2 linked regions of the Homo sapiens genome follow. The protein of the gene in region 2 purifies or fractionates together with the protein of the main gene of each other region. This does not show direct contact. Each region holds a gene or a part of one and is shown on either strand. Other genes may lie near its edges.

The links. Proteins that work in one complex are often made in the same cells at the same time.
Region 1: the proteins of SUGP1 (region 2) and TIMM44 fractionate together in Homo sapiens (co-fractionation; one large-scale study listed by BioGRID). This does not show direct contact.

Annotation. Positions count from the first base shown.
Region 1 is NC_000019.10:7,937,167-7,940,666, forward strand, and holds part of TIMM44 (mitochondrial import inner membrane translocase subunit TIM44), read right to left. Parts: intron 1,032-3,500; coding exon 861-1,031; intron 1-860. UniProt on the Homo sapiens protein: Essential component of the PAM complex, a complex required for the translocation of transit peptide-containing proteins from the inner membrane into the mitochondrial matrix in an ATP-dependent manner.
Region 2 is NC_000019.10:19,310,504-19,315,971, forward strand, and holds part of SUGP1 (SURP and G-patch domain-containing protein 1), read right to left. Parts: intron 1-5,468.

The sequences.
Region 1 (3,500 bases), about 11 Mb from region 2:
TATCCGGGAGGCTGAGGCAGGAGAATCAGGAGCTGGAGGTTGCAGTGAGCCAAGGTCACGCCACTGCACTCCAGCCTGGATGACAGAGCAAGACTCCATCTCATAAAATAAAATAAAATAAAATAAAATACCAGCACCATCACCCAGTTTCCACCAGGCTCCACTCAGAGGGCTACAGCTGGGAGCTCTCAGGAGCGCTGCATCCCATAGCTGGTGTGCATGCGTTGCCTGGGGGCCTGTGAAGATGCGGGCGCTGGCCTGGCAGTTTGGGAGGGTGTGAGCCTCTGCACTGCTCATCCACTCCCAGGAGGAGCCACTGCTGCTGGTCTGGGGACCACGCTTCAAGCTGCACAGAACGCTGCATGGTCTCATGGCAGAACCCAGAGGCCTGGAGACCCGCACCTGTCCCCTGGCTCCCTCTCATTAGTGCATCAGAGCAGTGACCTCACTTCCTCACGAGCCACCCTGCCCCCAACCGTCCAGCCCTGAGCTCCTCTGGCTGTCCCTGGCCTGGAGAAACCCTGGCCCTGGAAACAAACATGTCAACCAAGAAAGGTAAGAAGCAAAGGGGCCCAACGCGGTGGCTCACGCCTGTAATCCCAGCACTTTGGAAGGCTGAGGCGGGCGGATCACTTGAGGTCAGGAGTTCGAGACCAGCCTGGCCAACATGGTGAAACCTCTTCACTACTAAAAATACAAAAATTAGCTGGGCGTGGTGGTGCGCGCCTGTAAGCCCAGCTACTCAGGAGGCTGAGGCAGGGGAATCACTTGAACCTGGGAGGTGGAGGTTGCAGTGAGCCGAGATCGCACCACTACTCTCCAGCCTGGGTGAGGGAAAAAAAAGCAGCAAAGAAACTCACGTATTTCCTTCTGGCCTCCTGGAGCACGTCTGATTCTTCTAGCCTTCTGGCCTCGTCACGGAATTTTTTTATACTTTCTTTCATTTCTTTGTTTTTGGCTAATTCTTGTTTGACATTATCTAGCAAGCCGGACAGAAAGCCTTTTCTGTTTCCAGAAGAATATGATTTGGACTAGAAAGAATGTACAAGAAAAAAAATTTAAAGAACATAGTAGAACATAGAATGAAATGCCCCACAGAGGGACTCAGGGATTTTTTTAAATGTTCTCTTTTCGGTTGATATACATTTAATGATGATTAGCTATCTCTTTTATAATAATCATAAAAAACAAAGAAACAGCAGGTGATAAAAGTGTGGTATATCCAGACAACAGAATATTATTCAGTGCTGAAAAAAAAATGAGCTCTCAGCCACTTTAGGAGGCTGAGGAGGGAGGATTGCTTGAGGTCATGAGTTTTAAGACCAACCTGGGCAACACAGCACCCTATTTAAAAAACAGGCTGGGCGCGGTGGTTCACGCCTGTAATCCCAGTACTTTGGGAGGCTGAGGCGGGCAGATCACCTGAGGTCAGGAGTTCGAGACCAGCCTGGCCAAAATGGTGAAACCTCATCTCTACTAAAAATGCAAAAGTTAGCTGCGCATGGTGGTGTGTGCCTTTAGTCCCAGCTCCTCAGAAGGCTGAGGCACAAGAATTGCTTGAACCCAGGAGGAAGAGGCTGCAGTGAGCCAAGATTATGCCACAGCACTCCAGTCTGGGTGACAGAGCGAGACTCCATCTCAAATAAAATAAAATAAAATAATTTAAAAAACAAGCAAGAAATATGCTCTCAAGCTGTGAAAAGACACAGAGGAACCTTAAATGTATATTGCACTAAGTGAAAGAAGCCAATCTGAAAAGGCTACATACTGTCTGATTCCAACTATAGACCGTTCTGGAAAAGGCAAAACTAAGGGGACAGTAAAAGATCAGTGGTTGCCAGGGGTTTGGTAGGAAGAGGGTGAGATGAGTAGGGGGGAACACAGAAAAATGTTAGGGCAGTGAAACTACTCTTATGATACTGTAATCACAGAGAATGTACACCACCAAGAGGGAACCGGAAGGTAAACCATGCATTTATTAATAATAATGTATCAACATCCTGTCAATTGTGACAGATGCTCCACACTAATGCAGGACGTGAAGAATAGAAAACTGTGTGCCAGATGGGAGAGGAGGGGCATGGCAACTCTTTGGACATTCTGTTGGATTTTTCTGTAAACCTAAAACTGCTCAAAAGATAAAGCCTTGTGAAAGCAAAACAAGGCCGGGCGCAGTGGCTCCTGCCTGTAATCTCAGCACTTTGGGAGGCCAAGGTGGGTGGATCACTTGAGGTCAGGAGTTCCAGACCAGCCTGACCAACATAGTGAAACCCCCGTCTCTACTAAAAATACAAAAATTAGCTGGGCGTGGTGGTGGGTGCCTGTAATGCCAGCTACTCAGGAGGCTGAGGCAGGAGAATCACTTGAACCCAGGAGCCGGAGGTTGCAGTGAGCCAAGATTGTGCCACTGCACTCCAGCCTGGGTGATGGAATGAGACTCCATCTCAAAAAAAAAAAAAAAAAAGCAGGCTGGACACAGTGGCTCATATCTGTAATCCTAGCACTTTGGGAGACCGAGGTGGGCGGATCACTTGAGGCCAGGAGTCCGAGACAAGCCTGGCCAACATGGTGAAACCTTGTCTCTACTAAAAATACAAAAATTAGCCAGGTGTGGCGGCGCCTGCCTGTAGTCCCAGCTACTGAGGCAGAGGCAGGAGAACTGCTTGAACTCGGGAGGTGGAGGTTGCAGTGAGCGGTATCTCGCCCCTGCACTCCAGCCTGGGCGACAGAGTGAGACTCTGTTTCAAAAAAACAACAGAGAAACAGTTTAATGAATGATCATACAATAATCCAATCAGGCGGAAGGGGCCGCCTGTGGTCAACTTTTCCACAGCTGTGTTGGGTATACCAGCTCCAGGTGGGATCCCCCTCCCTGGCTCCTGTCAAGCTACAAGAGAAAGCTGCATCCAGCCTGGTGCTCAGGCCCCGTGGAGTCACACACCTGTGGTCCCAGCTACTCAGAAGGCTGAGGTGGGAGGATCGCTTAAGCCCAGGAGTTCAAGGCTGCAGTGAGCCGTGATAGTGCCACTGCACCCCAGCCTGGGCCACAGAGTGAGACCCTATCTTAAAAAAAAAAAAAAGCCCAGTGCTGCTCCCCAGGACAGGTGGCCAGGCCTCCTGTCAGCAGGCTGCAGTCCCATTCAGATGCCACCCTGGCCAGCCTTTCTCCAGGGGAAACCCAGGTTCTAAGTAAAATCATCCAGGACCACACAACCTTATCGCAGCCCTACCAGAGACTCTTGGGCTACAAACCATGGGAGTGAGTGTGTGGCGGGGGACTAGACAAGAAAGGGAAAGAGTCACAGGTCCTGTCCCACACCCACGATGGCCCCAGGACAGGACTGGAGAGGTAGGTAGCTGCCTCCAAGGAGGCAGCTGAGCTGAGGCTCTGGGCGCAGAGAGAGAGGGAGACAGAATGTACGCGCTGCCCGAATGTACAGGTCTGGGGAAGGGAGTCAGGTTTTGGGCTTCTGTCCTCACGATGCTGAGACACCAACAGA
Region 2 (5,468 bases):
CTCCTGCTCTCTCTGCACAGCACCTGTCCTCCCTTGCTAGTTGATTATCTGGGTTGTTACTGACTCATGTCTGTCCTCCTGCTAGACCTTAGAGTTTTCCAAGGCAGGGCCTACATGTCTCTCTCTCTCTGTCTCTCTCCCTCTCTATCTATCTATCCGAAACAGAGTTTTACTCTGTCGCCCAGGCTGGAGTGCAGTGGGGCAATCTTGGCTCACTGCAACCTCCTCCACCCAGGCTCAAGAGATTGTCATGTCTCAGCCTCCTGAGCAGCTGGGATTACAAGCATGTGCCACCACACCTGGCTAATTTTTGTATTTTTGTAGAGATGGGGTTTCGCTATGTTGGCTGGGCTGTTCTCGAACTTCTAACCTCAAGCCATCCTCCCACCTCATCCTCCCAAGGTGTTGGGATTACAGGTGTGAGCCACCACACCTGACCTATTTATTTAAGAGACAGGGTCTTGCTCTGCTGCCCTGGCTAAAGTGCAGAGTGCAATGGTGCGATAACAGGGACTGCAGGCATGTGCCACTCTGCCTGGCTAATTTTTTAATTTTTTTTTTTTTTTTTGGTAGAGGTAACATCTCACTATGTTGCCTAGGCTGGTCTTGAACTCCTGGCCTCAAGCAATGGTCCCACCTCAGCCTCCCAAGTCACTAGGACTAAAGGCATGTGACACTGTTCCTGGCCAATGCCATTTTTTTGACAGGCATGAAGGGCAGCTCTGACAACAGTATATCAGCTGTGCTCAACTTTGATTTAAATATATTTAGGCCCCTGGGTTTGCCTTTGTGCTAACTTGTTAAAAACATATTTTTTAAAAAGTAAAACATATACTTTGCAAAAAAAAAAAAGAGGGAGAGAGTGAAGATAAAATATAAAATGCCCTGTGATTCTTCCAGCAAGATTGCTTTGGCTGTTTTCTTAGAAATGTTTGATGCCCAGGCTGGGCGCGGTGGCTCACGCCTGTAATCCCAGCACTTTGGGAGGCCGAGGTGGGCGGATCACGAGGTCAGGAGATAGAGACCATCCTGGCTAACACAGTGAAACCCCATCTCTACTAAAAATACAAAGAATTAGCCAGATGTGGTAGCAGGCGCCTGTAGTCCCAGCTACCCGGGAGGCTGAGGCAGAAGAATGGCGTGAACCAAGGAGGCAGAGCTTGCAGTGAGCCAAGATTGCGCCACTGCACTCCAGCCTGGGCGACAGAGCGAGACTCTGTCTCAAAAAAAAAAAAAAAAAAAAAAAGAAATGTATGATGCCCAAAGAAATGCTTGCAGATCCCAGCTCTGAGCTGCAGGCCCACATGGGTAAAGAAACACAGGCTTTGGCTAAGCATGGTGGCTCATCCCTGTAATCCCAGCTACTTGGGAGACTGAGGTAGGAGAATCACTTGAGCCCAGGAGTTTGAGGCTGCAGTGACATATGATCATGCCACTGCACGTCTGCCTGGGCAACAGAGTGAGATCATGTTTCTTAAAACAAAAAAAAGTAACAGAGGCTCATTATGGAACAAATGGAAATGTAGAAAAACTGAAATAAGCCTAGGCAATATGGAGAAAACCCCATCTCTACGAACAAAACAAAAAATTAGCTGGGTGTGGTGGCGTGTGCCTATAATTCCAGCATTCCAGAGGATCACCGGAGCCCAGGAGGTCAAGGCGGAAGTGGGCCGCAATCATGCCACTGCACTCTAGCCTGGGTGACAGAGTAAGATCATTTAAAAAAAAATAAAAAGAAAAACTGAAACAGAAAGGAATGGAAAAACCCAACAATGTCTCCCTACTTTGCAACAGCCACTATTAACACTGGTATATATCTTTATTTTGCTCTCTAAATTAGAAGTCAGAGGAAATAAGGCTGTGATCACAGCACACACTCTACTTCTTCCATTTCCTACTGTAGCACACCATCCTGCTCCAATCTCAAATTCCTCACATACGCTGCTTTTTAAACCCGCATGACGTTCCACCATATGGATGTACCCAATGGTGCAAAAAGCTCATGGAGTCCACAGGGCTAGCCTTTTTCCTTTAAATAGGAGAAAGGAATAATTTTTAGTTCATCAGAACTAAAATAACCTAAATACATCAACAAGGGGCACTGGTTAAATAAATTACGGGCCATCCACAGGGAAGATGGGGCAGCCCTGAAAAGTTGAAATTTTAGACAAGCAATCAAATACAATGTTAAAGGAAAAACAAGGCCAGGCGCGGTGGCTCACGCCTGTAATCCCAGCACTTTGGGAGGCCAAGGCGGGTGGATCACGTGGTCAGGAGATCGAGACCATCCTGGCTAAAACAGTGAAACCCCGTCTCTACTAAAAATTAAAAAAAAAATTAGCCGGGCATGGTGGGGGGCACCTGCAGTCCCAGCTACTCAGGAGGCTGAGGCAGGAGAATGGTGTGAACCCAGGAGGCAGAGCCTGCAGTGAGCCGAGATCGTGCCACTGCACTCCAGCCTGGGCAACAGCGCAAGACTCCATCTCAAAAAAAAAATAAATAAATAAAATAAATAAATAAAAAAAAACAAAAGGACAGGCTATAAAACAGTATCTACAGTGTGGTTCTACTTACATCAAAATACATTTGAATTAAAAATTGTTACAAAGGCCGGGTGCGGGACCTCACACCTGTAATCCCAGCACTTCGGTAGGCCAAAGCAGGCGGATCACCTGAGGTCAGGAGTTCAAGACCAGCCTGGCCAACATGATGAAACCCCGTCTCTACTAAAAATACAAAAAATTAGCCGGGCGTGGTAGCGGGCACCTGTAATCCCAGTCACTGGGGAGGCTGAGACAGAAGAATCACTTGAACCCAGGAAGCGAATGTTGCAGTGGGCCAAGATCGCGCCATTGCACTCCAGCCTGGACAACAGAGTTAGACTTCATCTCAAATATAAAAAAAAATTGTTAGACAAACACATCGGGCCAGGAGCAGTGGCTCACACCTGTAAACCTAATGCTTTGGGAGGCCAAGGTAGGAGGATCACTTGAACCCAGAAGTTCAAAACCAACCTGGGCAACATAGTGAGACCCCATCTACACAAAATTTAAAAATTAGCTAGGCATGGCAGTGGACATCTGTAGTCCCAGCTACTCAAGAGGCTGAGGTGGGAAGATAGCTTGAGTCCAGGAATTCCAGACTGCAGTGAGCTATGATAGTGCCACTGTACTGCAGCCTGGGTGACAGAGTGAGATCCTGCCTCTGAAATAAAACAGGCCCGGCACGGTGGCTCAAGGCTGTAATCCCAGCACTTTGGGAGGCAGAGGCGGGTAGGTCACCTGTGGCCAGGAGTTCAAGACTAGCCTGGTCAACATAGTGAAACCCTGTCTCAACTAAAATACAAAAAAATGGCCGGGCTCAGAGACTTATGCCTGTAATCCTAGCACTTAGGGAGGCCGAGGTGGGAGGAACAACCTGAGGCCAGGAGTTAAAGACCAGCCTGGCCAACATGATGAAACCCCATCTCTACTAAAATACAAAAATTAGCCGGGCACGATGGTGGGTTCCTGTAATCCCAGCTACTCGGGAGGCTGAGCAGGAGAATCACTTGAGCCCAAGAGGCGGAGGTCGCAGTGAGCCAAGATCACACCACTGCACTCCAGCCTGGGCGGCTGAGTGAGACTCTGTCTCAAAAAATAAAATAAATAAATAAATAAATAAATAAATAAATAGCCGGGCATCGTGGCGCACACTGGTAATCCCAGCTACTCGAGAGGCTGAGCAGGAGAATCTCCTGAATCCAACAGGCGGAGGTTGTAGTGAGCCGAGATGGCACCACTACACTCCAGCCTGTGTGACAGAGCAAGACTCGTCTCAAAAATAAATAAATTAATTAATTAAATAAAATTAAAAAAAACAGAAAAACACCTCAACACTCAACCAGTGCTTGTCTCTGTGTTGCAGAGTTATGAGTGACTTTGGTTTTTTGTTTACCCCTCTTCTACTTCCTGGATTTCCTACCATGTACATGAATTACCTTTAAAGTTTAAAAAAAGAAGGAGTAGAAGTAATTTTATATGAAAAAGAAGGTTCAATGTTGACACTAAACAACCAGGACATTCTGGGCACCCCTCAGTTCCTGGGCCTGCCCCCATACTCACACCCTGAGCACTTCACTCAGGAGGGACCAGGAAGAGGTAGGGACAAGGAAAGACAAGAAATCACATTCAGGCTGCAGAGTACAGCGAACGGCTCCCACCTGAAAACCACTGGTAACAAATACTGGGAGATAAAAATGCTGGTTCTTGGCCGGGTGCAGTGGCTCACGCCTGTAATCCCAACACTCTGGGAGACTGAGAGGGGCGGATCACCTGAGGTCAGGAGTTTGAGACCAGCCTGACCAACAAGGAGAAACCCCGCCTCTACTAAAAATACAAAATTGGCTGGGCGTGGCAGCGCATGCCTGTAATCCCAGCTACTTGGGAGGCTGAGGCAGGAGAATCGCTTGAAACTTGGAGGCAGAGGTTGTGGTGAGCTGAGATCGTGCCACTGCACTCTAGCCTAGGCAACAAAAAAAGAAAAAGAAAGAAGAAAAGGCAAACGCTGCTGGGTGCAGTGGCTCACACCTGTAATCCCTTTGGGAGGCCAAGGTGGGAGGATCACTTGAGTCTAGGAGTTCGGGACCAACCTGGGCAACATAACAAGACCTCATCTCTACAAAAATAGAAAAAAATTAGCCAGGCATGGTGGCACGTGCCTGTGGTCCCAGCTACTTGGGAGGCTGAGGCAAGAGAACTGCTAAAGCCCAAGAGCTCAAGGCTTCGGTGAGCCATGATCCCACCACTGCACTCCGGCCTGGGTGACAGAGCAAAACCCTGTCTCAAAGAAAAAAAAAAAGGAAAAGCTGGAGCTGGAACAAGGCCTTGGGGAAGGTTAACACACTCTACACTCCAGACCCCAGAGGAAGGGGCCTGCCTCTCAGATTATCAATCTCCAGCCTGAAAAGCTTGGATCTGGTCACCCTCATCACAACATCACCCCTTGATCAAAACCCTTGGTGCCCTCAGTGTTTCTCAGGACAGGCAAGTGGAAACCCTTGCTGAGCTATCATCCACCTGCCATCCACTAAGGGACAGCCCCTTTGGTACAGCAGCTCAGGCTGGCCCTCCACATATGGGCTCTCTCCCCTTCCTGCCCTCTGCTGGGCAGGCCTTTCTCTGCTTCCTCAGTGGGCCAGCTCCACCTGGGCTTTCAGGATGCAAAGCTCTGTGGCCTTACTGTGGCCACGGGGCCTGGGAACACACTGCCTTTGTTATCTTCCAGGAGCTCTGGGGCGGCACCTGCATCCCTTTGCCAGTAGTTTGTCACCCCATAAGGGCAGAGGTTTTTTTTTGTTTTTTTTTTGAGACAGAGTCTCACTCTATGGCCCAGGGTAGTGTACAGTGGCACGATCTCAACTCACTGCAACCTTTGCCTGCCAGATCCCAGAGATTCTCGTGCCTCAGCCTCCTGAGCAGCTGGGACTA